Regions from separate parts of the Homo sapiens genome. Here region 2 is linked to region 1. The links come from fine-mapping of genetic effects on gene expression. A gene starts in region 1. The other region holds a variant in brackets. All regions are shown on one strand. Distances are from middle to middle. Region 1 holds the start of ARL8B (ARF like GTPase 8B). Region 2 overlaps ARL8B (ARF like GTPase 8B).

Evidence for each region.
Region 2: its variant is fine-mapped to the expression of ARL8B in thyroid (GTEx, PIP above 0.99).

What each region holds. Positions count from the first base shown.
Region 1 is chr3:5,117,033-5,129,156 of GRCh38, reverse strand. It overlaps ARL8B (ARF like GTPase 8B), which reads right to left and starts at 6,865. Exons shown (of 7, transcript NM_018184.3): 1 at 6,569-6,865. The coding sequence starts at 6,691. LOC124906212 (a long non-coding RNA gene) reads right to left here and starts at 6,098. Exons shown (of 2, transcript XR_007095800.1): 1 at 5,441-6,098; 2 at 342-697. RefSeq lists silencers at 3,119-3,413, 6,800-7,059.
Region 2 is chr3:5,150,287-5,162,410 of GRCh38, reverse strand. All of the region lies in intron 1 of ARL8B (ARF like GTPase 8B), which reads right to left. Among named protein-coding and RNA genes, the nearest start is that of EDEM1, 31 kb to the left of the region's middle. The variant GC/C (reference allele first, on the strand shown) is at 6,743.

The DNA.
Region 1 (12,124 bases):
CCTTCTCAGTGGGAGTGTACACTTTCTGGAAAGCAATTTGGCCATATGACATAAAATGCGTTTTTGACCCAGAAATACCAACTCTGGAACACATCCTCAGGAAGTGCAGATCAAATTGAGTACAATAGGAAAACATAGGAAAAATCCCTCAAATGTCCAATAAGGGAATTACCAAATATGTTATGGCATATCCACAAGACATACCACAATGGAATAAACTATGAAGACATGAAAAATGTTTTAGATAGAAAAATGCATACACTGTAACAATTAAACCAGAATATAAAGCATTATAAGTAATATTATCTCAGAACTTTTTAAAAGACATCTGGATATACACATTAAGAAGACAAAAACGAAATGCTTTTAATGTTGACAGTAGTTAATCTTGGATGGTAGAAATAAGTGGCTTCTTCTACCTTATACTATTCTTTTCACATCTCCGCTAATGAGCCTGTATTGTTTTGATAACACAAAAAAAATTTCAGAAAAAAAATTTTTTAATAATATTTGAGTAACTTTTTTATAGGTTCAATGTATTTTGTATCCATGTTCAGTAACCATCCACTTACTATATCTTTGAAAAACTTAAAAAATCCATTAACTTGTGAAATATCTTCTAAGACAGGCATTTAGAATGCATTATTGCACTCTAACAGCTTCTTAATGAGAACATTTGGCTTTCAAGATTCTTGGTCTGCAAGGAAAAACAAATAATTGGAGCGGGGATGAAGGGTAGAAAACTTTATGGAAGGTAGAGATGTTCCTTTGTAAGATGCCTCATTTTCCACAACTCAGAATCTATACTTGAAGACCACCTTATTGGAAGACTAGCTTCTCCAGTCAAGTTTCAGATGTGTAAAACATCTAGACTTGAACCACAGCCCATTTTCTTTAAAAATGGTTTTTGCCATTCTTACCTCCAAAGAAATTAAATAATAAGCAATACAATCAAATACAAAATTATTTCTGCTTTTTTTTTTTTTTTTTTTTTGAGACGGATTTTCACTCTGTTGCCCAGGCTGGAGTGCAGTCGCTCAATTTCGGCTCAACGCAACCTCCGCCTCCCAGGTTCAAGCAATTCTCCTGCCTCAGCCTCCTGAGTAACGCCAGGCTAATTTTTGTATTTTTAGTACAGATGGGGTTTCATCATGTTGGTCAGGCTGGTCTCAAACTCCTGACCTCATGATCCGGCCGCCTTGGCCTCCCAAAGTGCTGGGATTACAGGCGTAAGCCATTGCGCCTGGCCCTCCGCTTTTTTTTTTTTTTTTTTTTTTTTTTTTTGAGACGGAGTCTCGCTCTGTTGCCCAGGCTGGAGTGCAGTGGCGCAATCTTGGCTCACTGCAAGCTCTGCCTCCAAGGTTCACGCCATTCTCCTACCTCAGCCTCCCGAGTAGCTGGGACTACAGGTGCCCACCACCACACCCAGCTAATTATTTGTATTTTTAGTAGAGACGGGGTTTCACCGCATTAGCCAGGATGGTCTTGATCTCCCTCTGCTTTTTAAAGATACTAAAAGTAGTTCAACAACTCAGTAATGCCTGTTAGCCAGTTATTTAAATATCCAAACATAATATTCCACTCTTACTTTCCACAGATTATCATTCCTTCTCCTAATTCATGTTCATAGATAAATATATAGTCCTCAAATGTTAGTCAGTATGCTTAAGATGCCTGGATTTAAAATGCTCTCTCTAGAGAGACACACAGTACTCATTACGTCTGTATTTCTTATTCTATAAAGCAAACATTTCATATACGATACAAAAACTGCAGCTGATTTTTTAAATTAAATTAAATACAAAAAAGATGTTTAATGGATTAAGATCTCCCAATCCACAGTTCTATGGTTCTAACCTCAGCTGGATCTAAAGAGGTGGGAAAAGTAGAAAGTACACTGGCCCCAGATTCTAATTCTATCTCTGCTACGAATTAGCTTTGTTGCCTTGGAATTCCACTTAACCTCACTGGATCTGCTAGCCACATCTAAAAAATGAGGGGAAAATTAGACTACTTAATCAAGGTTTCTACAAACTCTTTAAAAAATGATTCTAGGTTCATATTTCTACAGTCTTCCCAAATATCTTCTTTTCCTAATTCTCAGCAGTAATAAACTTTCCCTTGGATTAACCTTTCAGGTATCAACAATGTGCAAAAGTGTAGACAAATTTTTATACTTCCATTTAAAAAATACATAATGTCCATAAGATTTATCCTATATTATTTTGGCAAATCCTATTAGATATTTTTTAATAACTATAACATATCTAAAAGCCCCAGTTAAAAATAAAGATTACTCAATATACATTACACATATAGGCACATGACTTATTGTGCAATAACTGCCAGAACAGTTAGCAATGGAAAAAATACTTCATTCCTTGACACTAATCAGAAAAGACAAGACTAGGGTGTTTCTTTTTTATAATGTTCAAAACAAAAGAGAACACTACATATATCAAGTGTCTCTACATAAAACTGGATTAAATTAGGTATCATTTCAGTTTTAAAATCCTAAGGAAAGGCATTCTAAGTCTGAGCATTCTGTAACTAAGCTGCATTATCTTTTAGACTCAAACCAAACCCTACATATAATAGTAATTCAGTCTCATGAACCTTTTGAGTAAGTTAAATGACATCTATTAAATCTTCCTTAATGTTTAAGGCACATGTAGTGACATTTTAATGTTTACAAAATGTTGATTTTTACAAAAAGAAAATTGGCTTCAGCTGAAGCTTTTCATACCTGAGAAGTCGCTTCTTAAATGTGAATAAGTAAATGGTCACCTTTCTAGAGTGACACATAGTACTCAATACATCTGTATTTCTGATTCTATAAAGCAACTATTTTATATACAATACAAAAAGTGCAGCTGATTTTTTAAAAGGCTAAACTTACTATTTTGGACACATTGTTTCTACCTAAAAATCTCTAAAATCATCTTTAATCACTAACTTGGATTTTAATCACTACATCCTCAACATATTCTATAAGAATCAGGGGTTAGGTTAGAGCCTTGAGGTTAAAAAAAAAAAAAAGTATGAAATTCACTGAGGGGGTCCCTTTCAGCATCTTAAAAGCCACAGCCAATTACAGCCCAGATGTCTTTTTTCTTTTTTAAATTAATATTACTTTTAATTGACAAATCATAATTGTATACATTTATGGAGTACAATGAGATGTTCTGATACATGTTTACAGTGTGGAATGACTAATTCAAGCCAATTACACATCCATCACCTTATCTTTGTGACTTTTTTTTTCTTAACTGAAGCTACCCACACCATTACAATTTTAAAAAGAATAGTCTAATGATAACAGTGGGCTGGGCACAGTGGCTCACGCCTGTAATCCCAGCATTTTGGGAGACCAAGGCAGGCATATTACTTGAGACCAGGAGTTCGAGAACAGCCTGCCCAACATGGTGAAACCCCGTCTCTACTAAAAATACAAAAATTAGCTGGGCATGGTGGCAGTCGCCTGTAGTCCCAGCTACTCGGGAGGCTGAGGCACGAGAATAGCTTGAACCCAGGAGGCAGAGGTTGCAGTGAGCCAAGATCATGCCACTGCACTCCAGCCTGGGCAACACAGCGGGACTCCGTCTCAAAAAAAAAAAAAAGATAATGGTGGAGCCACTGGTTCACTTTGACTTCAACAGCTTTGCAGAAGTTTTGTTGTTGTTAAATATAATAATCTAATGGTGGGGGCGGGGCAGGGGGGAACACATGATGCGATTACTTTCCCCAATCCATAAATCCACTACTGCAGCCCACATCTGGATAGATACAGTGATTCAAAGTAGAAAATGATACCAGTTGAGTCCCTTCTCAGTATTTTTCAAGCCATCGTTCCTGCATTAAACAGGTACGCCCAATTACAAATAACAACAGTTACCATCTACCTATCCCCTTCTGTGGGCCAGTATGAGTGCTAGCCACTTAACATCTTTCATGTCATTTAATCCCTAGAGCAACTCTGTAAGAAACATATCATTACCTCCATTTAATAGATGGGAAAGTAAGGACTCAAAGAGGATGTAAGGCTGCTAAGCGGCAGAGCCAGATTTCAAATCCAGGGCTGTCTGACTTCAAAGGTCATGCTCATTAAGCTACACTGTCTACTGAAAACAGAAGCATAAAAATCACCAAGAAGTTTCTCAAAGATTTGCTCAACTTTTTAGAGTTCCCAAGCATAACAACTCAACTGCAACAAATACAACTGGCTGTATTAATACACCTATCCACATGAAACATTAATTCCATGTTGTCAAAGAGCAAGTTTTACAAGATGACTCCAATTCTCATCTCAAGGGGATATGAGAAAATTTACAGTTAACTGAGCTCAACTTCACTCAAGCTTATGCCTCATCTTTTCCATATTATATAAAAGCTCTAGCAGGCTTATAATCCCAGTATGCTGGGAGGCCAAGGCAGGAAGACTGCTTGAGGCCAGGAGCTCAAGACCAGCCCTGGCAACATAGCAAGAGCCCGTCTTTATAAAAAATAAAAATTAAAAATAAATAGCGAGCCATGGTGGTAGCACATGCCTGTAGTCCCAGCTACTTGGGAGGCTGAGACAGGGAAGATCACATAAGCCCAGGAGTTGGAGGCTGCAGTGAGCTACGACTGCACCACTGCACTCCAGTCTGGGTGAAAGCTCAAGACCCTGTCTCCAAAAAAGAAAAGAAAAAAATTCTAATATAAATATGTAACCCGAAGTTCATGTTTCCTCATTAATTTTAGTGGTATTAGGCCAGGAACGGTGGCTCATGCCTGTAATGCCAGCACTTTGGGAGGCCGAGGCAGGAGGCTCGCTTGAGCCCAGGAGTTCAAGGCTGGCCTGGCAACATAGGAAGATCTTGTCTCTACCAGAAAAAAAAAAAAAAAAAAAAAAAAAAAATTAGTGGTATTAGATACACATTCCACTCTTCTATTCCTGCGGAAAGATAGTCATTCCAAGCGCAAAAAATCATAATATTACAATAGGAGGCCAGGCGCGGTGGCTCACACCTGCAATCCCAGCATTTTAAGAGGCCGAGTCGGGCGGATCACATGAGGTCAGGAGTTTTGAGACTAGCCTGAGCAACAAAGCAAAACCCATCTCTACTAAAAGTAATTAGCCGGGCGTGGTGGAGGACGTCTGTAATCCCAGCTACGCAGGAGGTGGAGGCAGGAAAATCGCTTGAACCTGGGAGGTGGAGGTTGCAGTGAGCTGAGATCTCGCCACTGCACTCCAGCCTGGGGGACAAAGCGAGACTCCGTCTCAAGAAAAAAAATTAATAATAATACTACTAGAAAAGGAGCCGAACAACAAGCAGGTAAATCTTCCTTATATACATCATTCTTCAAAGGACTTTGGGGTTTCTGCTAATCTCTTTTTCTCCAAGACTTACTCATTCCTGTTGCTTTATTAGTGCAAGGACTAAGAATCACAAGTTACCTATTTTCTCAAACATGAAAGCTGTGTTTGAATCATCTTGTGTAACCTAACCAGTCGGACAGCTAATCTTCAGGATTTCAACAGTCATCGAAAAGGTGGAAGAACTGCTGCCATCTCTCTTCAGAACAGTTCTAAAACTCCCCTGGCGTGTACAAGCCACTACCAGCTAAAACTGAGTCACAACAACTCTTGGGCTCTAAATAAAGATCGAGGCGAAATCTTTCACTCCTATTTATTTCCCAACCAACCAAACAAGCAAAACGAAACAATCACCTTTCTACTCAATCATTGCTGAACAAACACCACATTCTATGTAAGTCCTCAGTGCAATTTTCCTTCCACCCATTCCCTAGGCCTGCTAAGCTATGTTCCTGCCCAGTACCTTCTTTTCTCTTCAAGTGAAAAACACCATTTAAAGACCAACTCCTCTTTCGCAGGGTAGTTAACTTTATGCTAACTGCAGATCCATCTTATCTAGTCGCTTAAGACAATTAACTCTTAGCTTAATAAATACTATGTATTGTGGGCTAGCTGGAGCTCAGCAATGAGCTTGGTCTCCGCGCCTGGGGGACGGGTGAAAACAAGTAACTGAATTAGATGGGACCAGCGGCCCACAGAATTCAGGAAGGCGCTCACACTGGTCTCCCGCTTTCACAATGGGTCTATTGGTCCAAAGTGGCAACTTAAGAGAGGCTCTTAATGCTTACGCTTTCTCGTACGGCTGACGGATTTGCCAAATCCCACCCTTTGGGAAAGTGACAGACTGGACTTAACTCTTTGGCTGCCCCTACTGGGCAAACCCAAGGGAAACCCCAATCCCCAAGCGCTTTAAAAATGTGACGAGTTCAATTTAACTCTTTCCGAGCCCCCGCGGCGTTGAGGACACAGCCCTTGGAAAATGTCTACACTGACTTAACCCTTCCGCTGCCGATCTCAGTGCTACTCCCCGCGCCGCCAACACGCGGGAAATTCCAAATGCTGGCCCTCGGGAGATGACAGGCCCAGCTTCGCACGCCCCCCGCCATCAGTCCCATCGCGCCGAGGGGGGCCCCAACTCAGGCCTTGGAGAAGCGCCGGGCCGGACTCCTGGCTGCGGAGCCCCGGGCGAGTGAGTGGGCGGGCGCTCACCGCGATGACATTGACGAAGGTGGTCTTGCCCGAGTACTGCAGCCCCACGAGCGTCAGCTCCATCTCTTCCTTCCAGAAGAGCGAACGGAACCAGTCCAGCAGGCGGGAGATGAGCGCCAGCATGATGGCGGCCGGGAGCGAGAACGGACGGGAGGACGGACGAGCGGCGGCGTCGACGACTTCCACACGAGCGGGCCTCCGCCCGGACCCTCCAACGGCTCCTTGGTGCCCCGGCGCGACACGGGCGGACACCGGCGGGCGGCAGCAGCCAGACCCAGGAAGCCGAGCGGATCATATGACTCGCCCTACCCCCCACGCCCGTCCCGGCGCCGCCGTCGGCACCCACGGCAAGAGCGGCGCGGCCAATCCGGCCAGGCCCGCCCGCCGCTGGCATCGCCACCTGGTGGGCATGCTCCGCAGCACAGCGTACCCTCGGGCCCCCTTGAGGCTTTCTCTACATTCATTCATTGTTGGTTCATTCGTCATTCATCCACTTATACATTCGTTAATTCATTCATTCATTTTTTGCTATAATTGTTCATTAACAATCTGCAGGAAGACTTCAAGACTCTGGAAGAGTTGGCGTGGAATAAAAATTCCTGTCCTACATTTTTGGTAGTAGCAAAAGATAGTGTTAACTTAAAAATGACACCGTTTATAAATTTAGAAAGGAGAGCATTATTTCTTAAGAAGGGGATTATAAGCTGTAGGCAGGACGTGCAGCCTCGGGCCAAAAAAAACAAAAGTAAGCACTTTGAGAGAGGGAAGGGTGCAACAAGAATTTATATTGAGGAGTTGGCCAAGTAAACATATTTAACTTATGGAAGGAGCTATTAATATGTATGAAGGTGGTCTTACACACATAGTGAACAAATCTGTATGTTGCATATGACCTATGTTCATTTGGGGTGGCGACTTAACATTTAAATGTATTATAATCAGGCAGGGCGCGGTGGCTCATGCCTGTAATCCCAGCACTTTGGGAGGCAAAGGTGGGCAGATCACCTGAGGTCAGGAGTTTGAGACCAGCCTGACCAACATGGTGAAGCCCCATCTCTACTAAAAATACAAAATTAGCCGAACGTGGTGGCATGCACCTGTAGCCTCAGCTGCTTGGGAAGCCGAGGTGGGAGAATTGTGTGAACCCAGGAGGCGAAGGTTGCAGTGAGCTGAGATCATGCCACTGCACTTCAGCCTGGGTGATAGAGTGAGACCCTCGTCTCAAAAAACAACAATTAAAAAATAAATAAAGTAAAAGTATTATAATCAGGCCCTCCACATCAGAAAGTGAATCAGGGACGGGAAAGGTATTGAAGTGCTTGGCCTCTGTAAAACCAGCCAGAACTGGGCTGGGCGCGGTGGCTCACAGCCTGTAATCCAAACACTTTGAGAGGCTGAGGCAGGTGGATCAGGAGGTCAGGAGTTTGAGACCAGCCTGGCCAACAAGGTGAAACCCCGTCTCTACTAAAGATACAAAAAATTAGCCCAGGCCGGGTGCAGTGGCTCATGCCTGTAATCCCAGCACTTTGGGAGGTCAAGGCGGGCAGATCACCTCAGGTTGGGAGTTCAAGACCAGCCCGACCAACATGGTGAAACCCCGTCTCTACTAAAAATACAAAAATTAGCGGGACATGGTGGCACGCGCCTGTAATCCCAGCTATGCTGGAGGCTGAGGCAGGAGAATCGCTTGACTCCGGGAGGCAGAGGTTGCAGTGACCGAGGTCATGCCACTGCACGCCAGCCTGGGTGACAGAGCGAGACTTCATCTCAAAAAAAAAAAAAAGAAAGAAAGAAAAGAAAAAGCCAGCCAGAACCAATGCATGGATGCATGGTTAGTTGTCTCTTAACAGGAGAAAGTTACAGAAATCAGTCTCTTGTCTAATCAAAGCCATAGTTAGGCTTGTGGAACAGGTCAGTTAGCCTGCATCTGGCAGAGAGTTGTAACTGTTTTAATTGTGTTTATCTCCAGGCCAGTGCTGGTTTAGCTGGTAGAGAAAAAGAGAAACCTTGCACTTAGTCATTTAACTCTTGCCTAGTATGGCCTTAGGTCCTGTTTATAATTTGGTATCTAATTGTCACAAAGAGTCTGTTCTGTCAGTCTTGTGATCTCTATTTTAACGTTAATGTTGGTCGTTTGTTGTTTCTTTCTTTTTTTTTTTTTTTTTTTTGAGACGGAGTCTCGCTCTGTCGCCCAGGCTGGAGTGCAGTGATGCGATCTCGGCTCACTGCAAGCTCCGCCTCCCGGGTTCACACCATTCTCCTGCCTCAGCCTCCCGAGTAGTTGGGACTACAGGCGTCCGCCACCACGCCCGGCTAATTTTTTGTATTTTTAGTAGAGACGGGGTTTCACCCTGCTAGCCAGGATGGTCTCGATCTCCTGACCTCGTGATCCGCTCGCCTACGGCCTCCCAAAGTGCTGGGATTACAGGCTTGAGCCACCGCGCCCGGCCGGTCGTTTGTTGTTTCTAAACGACATAAGGGAGGAGGTATAACCAGGTGTGACTGACTTCCCATCTTGTGGAGGGAAGGAACTCAGTTTTTAAGACTTTCCTAGGATAGGCCGGGCGCGGTGGCTCACGCCTGTAATCCCAGCACTTTGGGAGGCCGAGGTGGGCGGATCACAAGGTCAGGAGATCGAGACCATCCTGGCTAACACGGTGAAACCCCATCTGTACTAAAAATACATAAAATTAGCCGGGCACGGTGGCGGGCGCCTGTAGTCCCAGCTACTCGGGAGGCTGAGGCAGGAGAATGGCGGGAACCCGGGAGGCAGAGCTTGCAGTGAGCCGAGATGGCGCCACCGCACTCCAGCCTGGGCGACAGCGAGACTCCGTCTCAAGAAAAAAAAAAAAGATTTTCCTAGGATCTCTTTGTCCAGGAAGGATCTGTTTAGTCAGTTGAGGGGACTTAGTTTGTTTGTTTATTTGATTTTGAGACAGAGTCGAGCACAGTTGCCCAGGCTGGAGTGCAATGGCAGATCATAGCTCATTGCAGCCTTGAATTCTTGGGCTGAAGTGATCCTCCTGCTTCAGTCTCTCAAAGTATTGGGATTACAGGCGTGAGCCACCATGCCCACACCCAGCCCAGGAATTTTTTTTTTTTTTTTGAGACAAGTCTCGCTCTGTTGCCAGGCTGGAGTGCAGTGGTGCAATCTCGGCTCACCGCAACCTCTGCCTCCCGGGTTCAAGCAACTCTCCTCCCTCAGCCTCCCGAGTAGTTGGGACTACAGGCGAGCCACCAAGCCCAGCTAATTTTTGTATTTTTAGTAGAGATGGGGTTTCACCATGTTGGCCAGGATGGTCTCGATCTCTTGACCTCATTATCCACCCACCTTAGCCTCCCAAAGTACTGGGATTACAGGCGTGACCCACCGGGTCCAGCCCAGGATTTTATTTTTAGTTTACAATGGGAAGCAATTAGTGTCTATCAATAGGGAACTGATTAACCAGGATGTGTCCCCAAAAAGGAATACTATGCAGCTGTAAAAAAAAATACAAGAAGAAGAAAGTTATCTGTCAACTGATAAGGAATGATGATCAGGAAATATTTTCAAGAAACAAAAAAAAATCAAGGTTCATGGCTGTGTACGGTGGCTCATACCTGTAGTCCCAGGACTTTGGGGGGGGGGGGGGCAGATCACTTGAGGCCGGGAGTTCGAGACCAGCCTAACCAACATGGCAAAACCCCATCTCTACTAAAATTACAAAAATTAGCCAAGCGTGATGGTGCATGCCTGTAATCCCACCTACTCATGAGGCTGAGGCAGGAGAATCCCTTGAACCCAAGAAGCAGAGGTTGCAATGAGCTGAGATTGCACCACTGCATTCCAGCCTGGGTGACAGATTAAGACTGTCTCAAGGCTGGGCGAGGTGGCTCATGCCTGTAATCCCAGCACTTTGGGAGGCTGAGGCGGGTGGATCACGAGGACAGGAGATCGAGACCATCCTGGCTAACATGGTGAAAACCCATCTCTACTAAAAATACAAAAAATTAGCCGGGAGTGGTGGCGGACGCCTGTAGTCCCAGCTACTTGGGAGGCTGAGGCAGGAGAATGGCATGAACCCGAGAGGCAGAGCTTGCAGTGAGCTGGGATCATGCCACTGCACCCCAGCCTGGGCAACAGAGCAAGACTCCCTCTCCCAGAAAAAAAAGACTGTCTCAAAAAAACAAAAAAACCAGGGTTCAGACTGTGTACGTAATGATATTTGGAATGTAAGGTGAGAAAATAATAACACATATGCTTATACATATATATACATATATAAGCATATGCTTATACATATATATACATATATAAGCATATGCTTATACATATATATACATATATAAGCATATGCTTATACATATATATACATATATAAGCATATGTGTATGGTATCTGCATAAAGAAATACTGGGAAACTAATAAAAATGGTTTCCTATGGGGGTAGGAAAAACTGGATGTCCGGTGGCAGAAATGGAAATGAGACTTGTCTAGATAACTTTTAGACCACTTTGACTTTTCTCTTTTTCTTTTATTTATTTATTTATCCTATTTTATTTTACTGTTTTTTTTTTTTTTTTGGAGACAGAGTCTCATTCTGTTGCCCAGACTGGAGTGCAGTGGTACAATCTCAGCTCACTGCAACATCCACCTCCCAGGTTCAAGTGATTCTCTTGCCTCAGCCTCCCAGGTAGCTGGGATTACAGGCGTGTGCCACCACATCTGGCTAATTTTTTTGTATTTTTATTAGAGATGGGGTTTCACCATGTTGGCCAGTCTGGTCTCCAACTCCTGACCTCAAGTGATCCACCCACCTGGGCCTCCCAAAGTGCTGGGAATACAGGCGTGAGCCACTGTGCCCAGCCTATCTTAGTTATTCTACAACATACCCCTAGAGGCAAACTTTGACTTTTCAAACATGTAAATGGGTTGTCTGTTCAAAATACAATTTACTTTTTGTTTTTTTGAGATAGAATCTTGCTCTGTCGCCCAGGCTGGAGTGCAGTGGTGCGATCTCAGCTCACTGCAACCTCTGCCTCCCAGGTTCAAGTGATTCTCCTGCCTGAGCCCACTGAGTAGCTGGAAGTATAGGCACATGCCACCACACCCAGCTAATTTTTGTATTTTTAGTAGAGATGGGGTTTCACCATGTTGGCCAGGCTGGTCTCGAACTCCTGGCCTCAAGTGATCTGCCTGCCTCGGCCTCCCAAAGTGCTGGGATTACAGGCATGAGCCACCATGCCTGGCCACAATATAATTTACTTTAACAGTAATTAAAAATATCTTCAAGGCTTTAAAATTTAAAAAAAATTCCTTCCCTCATGGAGCCTACAATCCAGTGGGGGAGACATATGCTATAATAAACAAATTAAGAAATGAGGCCTGGTGGCTCACTCCTATAATCCCAGCCCTTTGGGAGGCTGAGGCAGGGAGATCACCTGAGCCCAGGAGTTCAAGACCAGCCTGGACAAGATAATGAGACCCTGTCTCTACAAAAAAATTTAAAAACTTAGCCAGGCGTGCTGCGCATGCCTGTAGTCCCAGCTTCTTGGGAAGCTGAGGCAGGAGGATCA
Region 2 (12,124 bases), 33 kb before region 1:
TTCCAAAAACACTAGCCAGAAAGATAAAGGCAACCCTAGATTCTTCTAAGAACAGGCACCCTGCGTAGACTGTGGCCTGCATGCCAACATTTCATCTAGCTTACTAATCCAAATGGACTGACTGTGGCTCCAACCTGAGGTCAATGAGTGACATTCTCTTTCATCTGTGGCATCTGCATAGATGAAGAAGTGGCTATAGCTCTCATACTATGCATTTATGAACTCTGGCTCTAGTTATTCTAAGGCAGACAGGCCAATTGTAAAAGACTGCTACACAAATGATCCAGTCCAGTGATGAGCAGCTGATTTACACAGATGCATTTTGTGTGCCTTGACAGCATACACAGATAACGAATCTATAGCAAACTGATTTACAAACACCTATTGCTGTTCACTTTTTCCTGCGGTCTTATAAACCCTTAAAGCTACTTGTCTCTGCCTCTATGTACTCACTTAGCCATCAGTCAGTAATTCAACAATAAAAAGAAGAGAAACTAGGAAACAAACATACAAATATCACCCAATAAATATATGCTATGCAAAACAGAGGAGACTGTATGAGGTGATTGAGTATCCAAGAAGGCCTTTCTTGAAGTAGTGACATTTAAGCCCCTAAGGACTAACTTAAATCAACACATAACAATAGGAATGTTTCTGCAGAGTGCCTACCCACTGTGCTACTTGAAAATGAGTCAAGAAATCTAAATTTCAGTCCTAGCTATGTCACTTTTGATTATATTAGATACAGAGAACTCTAAACCCTCTTACTCAATCAGAATGCAGAGGTGTTGTCTCCTTTCTCCTTACTGCCACTTCTCCTAAGTGCCTATACTAGCTCAAACCTCAAGTGTTTACTGCTGGCTTTGCTTCTTTTCTTCTTTCCTGCTCCCGAACAGCTAGCCTTTAGATGAGGCAAACAAACAGACCCACTCAAACCCTTAAGATGAAATATTTAACTCTTAACTGCTGTGCTGTTTTTTGCAAACCACTCAAACATTGCCTCTCTGATGTCAGTGGGGCTCTTGATACACTTCAGACTGAGGACCACACCTTAAGGCAAGACTGCAAGTTTCAGTGTTAATATTGCTGGGTTTTTGTTTTGTCTTTTTTTGATGTTGCTGAGTTTATGGTAATCTGGCAAACAATCAGATTTGCCTTATGGGACAGGGGCTGAATCATTTATTTTTTCAAGATAACTAGTGGTAAAGGCTGGTACAGTGCCTCACCCCTGTAATCCCCGGCCGTGGGAGGCCAAAGTGGGTGGATTGCTTGAAACCAGCCTGGATAACAAAGCAAGACCCCATCTCTACAAAAAATACAAACATTTGCCAGGTGTGATGGGGCATGCCTGCGGTCCCAAGCTACTTGGAAGGCTGAGGTGGGAAGATGGCTTGAGCCTGGAAGGCAGAGGTTAGAGTGAGCTGAGATGGTGCCACTGCACTCTACCCTGGAGGACAGACACCTGGGGGACAAAGCCAGACTCTGTCTCAAAAAAACACTAGTGGCAAGTTTTATTTATCCTGTCAGGATCTATAACATCCCAAATAGTAGCAACATGGATTTTTAAATAGTTCTTTTTGAATGGGAACAACGAAACTCAGTGAAAAACTCATTACATTTTCTTCAGCATTATGCTATGAAAATTGAATACAGCAGATAAAAATTCTCTAGAAAATTAATTGTTTTTATTACAGGGGATCAACTGGTCATATCACATCTAGATAACTTTTTATAAAGCGTAATGGCATAGGAACTCTCCAACTAATTACATGCTGTCGTTCCAATTCTAAAATTCTAACTCACTTGAAACAACTAACTCTACTGCCTGTTAATACAAAGGGAGCTACTCTGCAGCAACTTCCTTTACAAAGACAACCCTAGAGGATTAAAATGTTCTCCAAACCACAATTTCAATTAGGAGCCTGAAAACTCATTCTTGCTTACCTCTACTCCTGAAAAATAGTCATTTTAAAAGGTCTCTAAAGATTATTTCATATGATCACTCTACCTTTCATTAACAGCATTCTAATAACGGTGCTACTAAATCCATATCCAAAAAACTGCTGAATAAAAATTCAACTTGCTTGTCTGTGATTAGTTTGCTAGTGAGTATCCCTTGTCAACCAACCAGCAGTTTCACTCAAATATTCAGAAACATTGATGAGCCAACAGCAACATAAAAAGGGACACTAAAAGAAATCTTAGTGCTAGAGAGCTCAAGCAAATAACACTTTTTGTCAACTTGTGAAGTCACTAAAGTTATCTGGATATATTTCCCATGAAAATCAAAGGTCGGCCATAATCCTTAATAAACACCTGCATTTTTATATAAAAAGATGATTACCGTTCACATGCAGGCTGTGTGGGGTTCTTAAGTAGGGAGCATGAGTGTTGAGGTTATTAGTATACCAGTCACATTTTCAGGCCTTGATACTATTGTCCTGGTTGGTCTCTAAACATCTGTACTACTTTTTGAATGTTTGCGTTTCTAACATAAAAACTTTTTAAAATTAAGAAAATAACTTTATTTAGAAGTTTATTTTCTTCTTTCTTGGGAAAACTGGGTATTTTGGGAACTAAAATGAGAAAAAGACTTGTCATTGTGTGCCCTTCTATGAGTACAAATGCTGCTTGTTCATAAAAAAAAACTGTAAAAAAGTTTCTTTCTAAATCTATTTCTAGGTTTCTATTACTGAACTTAAAAAGGGGGATTTCTAGAGCTACCCAAATGATCTTAGTAAGATATGTATGTAACAAAAATCCTTCAGTCTTTTTTCTTTTTCTCTTTTTTTTTTTTTTTTTTTTTTTGAGACGGAGTTTCATTCTTGTTGCCCAGGCTAGAGTGCAATGGCGCGATCTCAGCTCACCCCAAACTCCACCTCCCAGGTTCAAGGGATTCTCCTGCCTCAGCCTCCCAAGTAGCTGGAATTACAGGCATGCACCACCACACCCAGCTAATTTTGTATTTTCAGTAGAGACAGGGTTTCTCCATATTGGTCAGGCTGGTCTTGAACTCCCAACCTCAGGTGATCCACCCACCTCGGCCTCCCAAAGTGCTGGGATTACAGGCATGAGCCACCGCACCTGGCATTTTTTTTTTTTTTTTTTTTTTTGAGACAGAGTCACTCTGTCACCCAAGCTGGAGTACACTGATGCGATCGTGGCTCACCGCAGCCTCAACCTCCCGGGCTCGGGGGATCCTCCCTCCTCAGCCTCCCAAGTAACTGGGACTACAGGCACACACTACCACGTCTGGCTCACTTTTGTATTTTGTACCAAAAATACAAAATTTGAGCCAGGCGTGGTGGTGCATGCCCGCATGTAGGGTTTTGCCATGTTGCCCAGGCTGGTCTCGAACTCCTGCGCTCAAGTGATCCTCCAACCTTGGCCTCCCAAAGTGCTGGGGTTACAGGCATGAGCCACCATGCATTGCTGTCCTTCAGTTTTAGAAAAACAAATAAATCCCTTACGGAGGAAGACTTCAGCATATACTACAAATTTGTAAGCCATAAACAACAGAATGAATTTCATATTCATTAAAATTTAAAAAGCCTAATCTTTATCAAGACCTATTAAAGTAAGACAGAATCAAGGGACTAATAAAATGAAATTTTAAATGTCATTTATAAAGCCTACTAAAACAGTAGTCACATAACTGATAAACAACCATTTCGGTATAACATAAAGAGTTTCAGTGGCTCTCGAATTACTCTAAGAGACCCTGTTCATTTTTTCAGGTAATAAATGTTAAAACAATGATATACAGGCAGTGTTATTCTGGTGGTTATAACGGACCCTGGAGACAGTCACACTAGGTAACAACTCTGACGTTACCTCTTGCCTATCAGTGTGCCCTTCTTACACATTCCTTAACTTTGTAATGCCTTACTTTGCCCAAATATAAAATGGAGATAACCACAGTCTCTACCTCACAGAGCTGTTTAAAAGTAAAATGAATTAAAACACATACAGCATTTTGAACAGTGCTTGGTACAGGGAAAGCATTCAATGTTTGCTACCATCACCCACGGTCCATGAAACGTGACATTACCTGTTCCTTCCACTGAATACCATTACCTGTTCCTTCCACTGAATACAACTAAAACCCTGGACAGAATGCATGCCCCAGGCTGGGCGCGTGGCTCACACGTGTAATCCCAGTACTTTGGGAGGCCAAGGTGGGAAGATTACTTGAGGTCATAATTTCAAGACCAGCCTGGCCAACATAGTGAAACCCTACCTCTACTAAAAATACAGAAATGAGCCGGGAGTGGTGGCAAAGTGGTGAGCACCTGTGATCCTAGCTACTTTGGAGGCTGAGGCAGGACAATCATTTGAACCCAGGAGGCGGAGGCTGCAGTGAGCTGAGATCGCTCCATTGCACTCCAGCCTGGGCAACAGAGCAAGATTCCATCTCAAAATACATTAAAAAAAAAAACCTATCTGAGGACTCTGAAAAGTAAATGGTAGCAGATAGATTTGAGAAGGGAACTAGAACTTGAAGCACAATCTATCTGGTGCTCTTTCTTACTTTTGCTTGTTTTCTCCCAATCTTCCAGTCTGGATACAAAGGCAGCCCAATTTCTAGAAATGTATACCAGCCATGAAGAGATAAAGCTCCAAGAGGAGATTTCTCTTTCTGGTATAAGGTATGTGTGTGTATATGGGGGGCGATAAGGTTGGGAGTGTGAGGAATACAGAGTGGGAGAAATCCATTATTTCCACCCTCTCTCTTGCCATTGCAACCAGACAAAACCAAGCCTGGAAGCTGTGCACACTTAAGGCAGCTATGGACCAGCTGTACTTACGGAGAAGAAAATCCTCTCTGACCAGAAAACTGTGGTCTAACTTAAGTGCTTTGGGGAGGGGAGGGAGTAGAGTGGTATGGAGAAAGAACCTGTGTTGCTTTGGGGGTTTTTTTGTTTTGTTTGTTTTTTTGCGATTCCTTCTCCTACCTTGTGGCCCCTGAGACAGATTCAACTGAGGGAAAGGCAGGAGCCTCAAGCTTTCCAGGCTCAGGACCAGGAAGTGGGAGATGGGAGACTAAGACAGTATCAAGGAAACTCAGAAGGGAACGAACTGGAGTAATACATCTGATAAAGTTGTGTATGAACTCCTGGGCTCACCCCCAAGCTGTGACATATGGATCTGATCCCAACAGCACAAAGGCTTTGAGAACTAAACTATAAGGTAGACCACCACCCAAGTGCCTGGTTGACCCCTGTGTGGCACATAGCCAGAAATGACCCAAATAGCACCAGCAAGGCTTTGAAAACTAACATCATATTAGAACCAAAGCCCATAGAAGGTGGGTTGGATCTTGTGGCCTAAACTGAGTTAACTGTCTGCTATAACAAAACAAAATAACAAATCAATATTCTCCACAGGATTTAAACAAAACCTAGAATGTCGCAGTACTCGAAGTATCCAAAACAACTGAAAAATGAAGAAGAATAAAAGAAGAATCCAAAAGTATCCAAAATAACTGAACATATGAAGAATCATGGCTGGGCACAGTGACTGGCTCATGTCCGTAATCCTAGCATTTTGGGAGGCTGGGGGCGGGGAGGCAGGGACAGGGATCACTTGAGGTCAGGATTTCAAGACCAGCCTGGCCAACATGGTGAAATCCCATCTCTACTAAAAACACAAAAATTAGCTGGGTGTGGTGGCGCATGCCTGAAATCCCATTTGAGGCCGGGCATGGTGGCTCAGGCCTATAATACCAGCACTTTGGGAGGCCAAGGCGGGTGGATCACTTGAGGTCAGGAGTTGGAGACCAGCATGGCCAACATGGCAAAACCCCATCTCTACTGAAAATACAAAAATTCACTGGGCATGGTGGTGTGTGCCTGTAATCCCAGCTACTTGGAGGCTGAGGCAAGAGTATCGCTTGAACTTGGGAGGCAGAGGTTGCAGTGAGACAGGATCGTGCCACTGCACTCCAACCTGGGTGACAATGTGAGACTCCGTCTCAAAAAACAAAACCAAACAAACGAACAACTGAAAAAAAAAAAAAGGCAGTAAACTCTGGGGAAGGGGGAGAGTCTGATTTCCAGGGTTACAACATTATTAGATTCAAATTTCCAGTTTTCAACAAAAAAAAATCACAAAGCATAAAAGAGACAGGGAAGTATGGTCCATTCAAAGGAAAAAAAATTAACCAACAGAAACTGACCCTGAGGAAGACCAGTAAACAATTATCTTAGGCCAAGTGCGGGGGCTGACGCCTATAATCCCAGCACTTTGGGAGGCTGAGGCAGGCAGATCACTTGAGGTCAGCAGTTTGAGACCAGCCTGGCTAACATAGTGTAACGCCATCTCTAACAAAAATACAAAAATTAGATGGGCATGGTGGTGCGCACCTGTAGTCTTGGCTACTAGGGGTGCTGAGGCTCAAGAATCACTTGAACCTAGGAGGCGGAGGTTGCCGTGAGCTGAGATCGCGCCACTGCACTCCAGCCTAGGTGACAGAGCAAGACCCTGTCTCAAAAACAAAAACAACACACACACACACACAAAAATTATCTTAAAGGTACTCAAAGAACAACAACAACAAAAAAAAAACACTGAGAAAAATGCAAGAAAACTATGTACGAACAAAATAGAAATACCAATAAAGAGGTAGAAAACCGAAAAAGATGCCAAAAAGAAAGTGTTCAGAGTTGAAAAGTACAATAAAGCAAATGCAAAATTTACTAGAGGAACACGAAGGCTGATTTGACCAGGCGGGGGTGGGGGG[GC/C]ACGGGGAATCAACAAACCTGAGGATAGGACAAATGGAATTAATTATTCAGTCTGAGTCAGAGAAAGAAAAAAAAAATGAAGAAAAGTGAACAGAGCCCAGGGGACCTATGGGACACCATCAAGAAAGCCAACATGCACACTGTGGAAGTCCTAAAAGAAGACAGATAATAGGAGGCAGAGACATAATTTGAAGAAATAATGACCCAAAACTCCCCAAATTTGGTGAAAGACATGAACATAAACATCCAAGAAGCTCATCAAACTCCAAGTAGGATGAACTTAAAGAGATCTATACCAAGACAAATTATAAACATGCTATTAAAAGACAAAGACAGATATAATCTTGAAAGCAGCAAGAGGCAACTCATCAAATATAAATAATCAATAGTAGCAGCAGATTTATCAGAAACTTCAGAATTCAGAAGGCAATGGGCTAATATATTCAAAGTGCTAAATGAAAAAACAAAAACTGTTAACCGAGAATCCTATTTTCAGCTAAAACGTCCTTCAGAAGTTGGAGAAAAATTAAAACATTCCCAGATAAACAAAAGCTGAGGAAATTACTACTAGACCTGACCTGTAAGATAAAATAAAGGGAATTCTGCAGGTTGAAATGAAAGGATAGTAACTTGGGCCAAGCCCAGGAGCTCAGGCCTGTAATCCCAGCACTTTGGGAGGCTGAAGTGGGAGGATCACTTGAGGTCAGGAGTTCGAGACCAGCCTGGCCAACATAGTGAAAACACAAGTCTACTTTAAAAACAAACAAACAAACAAAAACAACCACAAAAATCCACCGGGCATGGTGGCATGCCCCTGTAATCCCAGCTACTCAGAAGGCTGAGACAGGAGAATCACATGAACCCCGGAGGCAGAGGTTGCAGTGAGCCAAGATCGTGCCACTGCACTCCAGCCCGGGCAACAGAGCAAGACTAATCATAGACAGAATGTAGAATAGTGGTTGCTAGGGTGGTGCTGGGGTGAATGAGGAGTTACTGTTTAATGGGTACAGAGTTTCAGTTCTACAAGATAAAAAGAGTTCCTGGAGATGGATAGCAGTAATGGTTGCATTCAATATGAAGGTACTTAACATCACTGAACACTTAAAAATCTTGAAGACACAACCTGGCCAACATAGTGAAGCCCCATCTCTACAAAAAAACAAAAATTAGCTGGGCATGGTAGTGGATGCCTATAGTCCCAGCTACTCGGGAGGCTGAGGCATGAGAATCACTTGAACCTGGAAGGCAGAGGTTGCACTGAGCCAAGATCGTACCAGTGCACTCCACCCTCGGGCAACACAGCGAGACCCTGTCTCAAAAAAAAAAAAAAGTTATTTTACCACAATAAAATTTTTTTTTAAAAAATGAACAAAACTGTGAAATGAACAGGATCTGTGGGACAATATAAAAAGGACTAACAGTCATGTCAAAGTCCTGGAATAAGAGAGAGAGTAATTCAGGAAAAAATACTTGAAAAAAATGACTGAAAATTTCCAAAATTTCCAAAGACAAAATTACAGTCAAGAAGTACAACAAACACTAAGCAGGGTAAGCAGAAAGAAATCCACATCCAGATATATCACAATTAAACTGCTATAACCAAAGACAAGAAAATATCTTAAAAGCAGCCAAAGAGAAATGATGCATGACATTAGAGAATAACAATTGAAATTACTACAAATTTCCCATCAGAAACAATCAAAGCATCTTCCGAAGTGCTGGAGGGGGAAAAAAAAAAAGACTATCAGTCTGAAATTCTATATTCAGCAAAAATATCTTTTAGGAATTAAGGTCATAAAGACATTCTCAGATGCAGGAAAACTAAACTAAACTAAAATCTGTAGCCAGCAGACGTGCTCTAAAAGAAATGTTAAAGGAAGTTCTCCAGGCATAAGAGAAACTACCAGAGGGAAAGGTGGGACTTCAAAAATGAAGAGAAATCAAAAGAAATGATAAATACCTGGGTAAATATAATAAACTCTTCTCCCCTTAAATACTTTAAAATGTTTGATGGCTGAAAGGAAAAAATTTTTTTTTCAAAGAATAGGTAAAATTCGACATTGGTGTCGTTTTCCATTTAGGTAGGTGTACGTATTAGTCCATTTTCACGCTACTGATAAACACATATCCAAGAGTGGGCAATTTACAAAAGAAAGAGGTTTAATGGATTTAACAGTTCCATGTGGCTGGGGAAGCCTCACAATCACGGTGGAAGGCAAGCAGGAGCAAGTCACTCTTACATGGATGGCAGCAGGCAAAGAGAGAGCTTGTGTAGAGAAACTCCCTTGTTTAAAACCATCAGATCTCATAAGATTAATTCACTATCAGGAAAACAGCGTGGGAAAGATCTGCCCCATAATTTAATCACCTCCCACCAGGTTCCTCCCATGACACATGGGAATTGTGGGACTTCAAAGAGGAGATTTGGGTGGGGACACTGCCAAGTCCTATCAGTATATTACCGATAATGACTACAATATAAAGGGGGGAAGGTAAAGGGGCCTCTACGTTGCTAAGGTTTCTACATTCTACATTAAGTGATATACATTAATTCTAAGTGGACTGGGAAATGCATACTTGTAAACTCTAGAAGAACCACTGCAAGGAACAGTCAAAACCCCAATAGAGAAATTAAAATTAATATAAAAACACTCCGCTGAAATCAGCAAAGGTAAAATAAGAACAAAACCAAAGGCACTGAACAGAAAACAAATAATTAAATGATTATTTGAACTAAATACTATGTTTAAACTAAGTCTTAAATATCAATAATTACATTAAAAGGCAATGGTCTAAACACATCAATGAAAAGACAGAAACTGTCAAAATGTATTTTTTTAAAAAGACCCAACCATATGTTGTCTTCAATAAACCCAGATTTTGTCTAGGCACAGTGGCTCATGCCTGTAATTCCAGCACTTTCAGAGGCCTAGGAAGGAGGATCACTTGAGGCTAGCAGTTCGAGACCAGCCTGAGCAACCTAGCAAGACTCTATCTCTACAAAAAATTTAAAAATTAGCTAGGTGTGGCGGCACGCGCCCTTAGTCCCAAGCTACTCAAATGGCTGAGGTGGGAGGATTGTTTAAGTCCAGGAGTTGGAGGTGGCAGTGAGCCTTGATCACATCACTGAATTCCAGCCTGGCAACAGAGCAAGAAGAAAGAAAAGAGGAAAGAAGAGAAACCCACTTTAATATAATTTAGGGAGAGGTAAGTTAGAAGTAAAAAGATAGAAAGACAAACACCATGCAACCACTTATCACAGAAAGCTGAAATAATTATTTTAATATCAGAAGAAAAAGCCGACTTCAAAGCAAGAAAATATACCAAGGATAAAGAGGGACATTACATAATAAAAGGATGAATTCACCAAGAAGAAGGTATAACATCCTAAATGAGTATGCACCTAACAAAACTTCAAAACACATAAAGCAAAAATTGATAGAATTGAAATAAACCCACAATTATAATTAGAGATTTCAACATTCCTCTCATGTTAATTGATAGGGAGAAAACCAGCAAGGATGTAGAACTTACCACAACAACCAACTGGATCTACCTCACAGTTACAGAACATTTCATTAAAAAAGAATACACATTCTTTTCAAATGCACATGGGAACATTCACTCAACCATATTCTGAGCCACAAATCAAAGCTTTGCCTGGGCACAATGGCTCATGCCTACAGTCTCGATACTTTGGGAGGCCAAGGTGGGAGGATTCAAGACTGGCCTAAGTTACATGGCAAGACTCGGTCTCTACAAAAAAATTATAAAAATTAGCCAGACGTGGTCGTGTGAGCCTGTGGTCCCAGGTACTCAAGAGGCTGAGGCTGACGTGGGTGGACTGCTTGAGCCTGGGAGGTTGAGGGTGCAGCCAGCCGTGATCACACACCACTGCAGCCCAGCCTGGAGGAAGACAGCAAGATCCTATCTCCAAGGGGGGGGGTGGGGGGAGAAAAGCTTCACAAATGTAAAAGGATTCAAGTCATACAAAAATCATACAAAGTATGTTCTTTCACCATAATGGAATTAAACTAGAAATAATTAATATAAAGCTATCTGGAAACAACCAAATACTTGGCTATATAATCTATTGGTCACAGAAGGAAGCCTCAAGGGAAAATAAAAACATGTTGAACTAAATGAGAAACATGTCAGAATTTGTATAATGCAGCTAATCAGTGCTCAGAAGAAAATTTATAGACTCAAATGCTTATATATTTTAGAGACAGGGTCTTGCTCTGTCGCCCAGGCTGGAGGGCAGTGACATAATCATAGCTCACTGCAGCCTCAGACTCCTGAGTTCAAGCAATTCTTCTACCTCATCCTCCCAAGTAGCTGGGACTACAGGCACACTTCACTATGCCCAGCTTCAAATGCTTATATTAGAAAAGAAGAAATGTCTCAAATTAACAATCTAAGCCCCCCATTTAAGAAATTAGAAAAAGAGCAAAATAAATCCAAAACAAGCAGAGGGCAATGGTAAGAGCAGTAAATAATACTGAACACAGAAAAACTTTGAAGCAAATCAATGAAACCAAAAGATCCTGATTCTCTAAAAAGATAATTAAAATTGATAAACAAAGGAAAATAAATAAAAATCACCAATATCAGTAAGGACATCACTACAGACTCCACCGACATTAAAAAAGATAAATAAGAGAATACTATAAACACGCTATGCTCATAAATTCAACAACTTTGATGAAATGAACCTATTTCTTGAAAATCACAAACTACCAAACACACTGGAAGAAAAAACGGCCCTCTCTCTACTGAAGAAATTGAATCACTAACTTCAAAGCTTCTTAAAAAGAAATCCCGGGACTAGAATTATTTTCCTGCTGAATTCTACCAACTATTTTATTTTATTTTATTTTATTTTGAGACAGAGTCTCACTCTATCACCCATGGTGGAGTGCAGTGGAGCAATCCTGGCTCACTGCAAGCTTCCCCTCCCGGGTTCAAGTGATTCTCCTGCCTCAGCCTCCTGAGTAGCTGGGATTACAGGCATGTGCCACCACGCCCAGCTAAGTTTTGTATTTTTAGTAGAGACAGGGTTTCACCATGTTGGCCAGGCTGGTCTTGAACTCCTGACCTCAAGTGATCTGCCCACCTTGGCCTACCAAAGTGCTGGGATTACAGATGTGAGCCACCATGCCTGGCTCCAAACTTTATTTATTTATTTATTTATTTATTTATTTTGACATGGATTCTCGCTCTGTCACCAAGGCTGGAGTGCAGTGGCAAGATCTCGGCTCACTGCAACCTCTGCCTCCTGGGTTCAAGCAATTCTCCTACCTCAGCCTCCTGAGTAGCTGGGATTACAGGCGTGTGCCACCACGCCTGGCTAATTTTTGTATTTTTAGTAGAGATGGGGT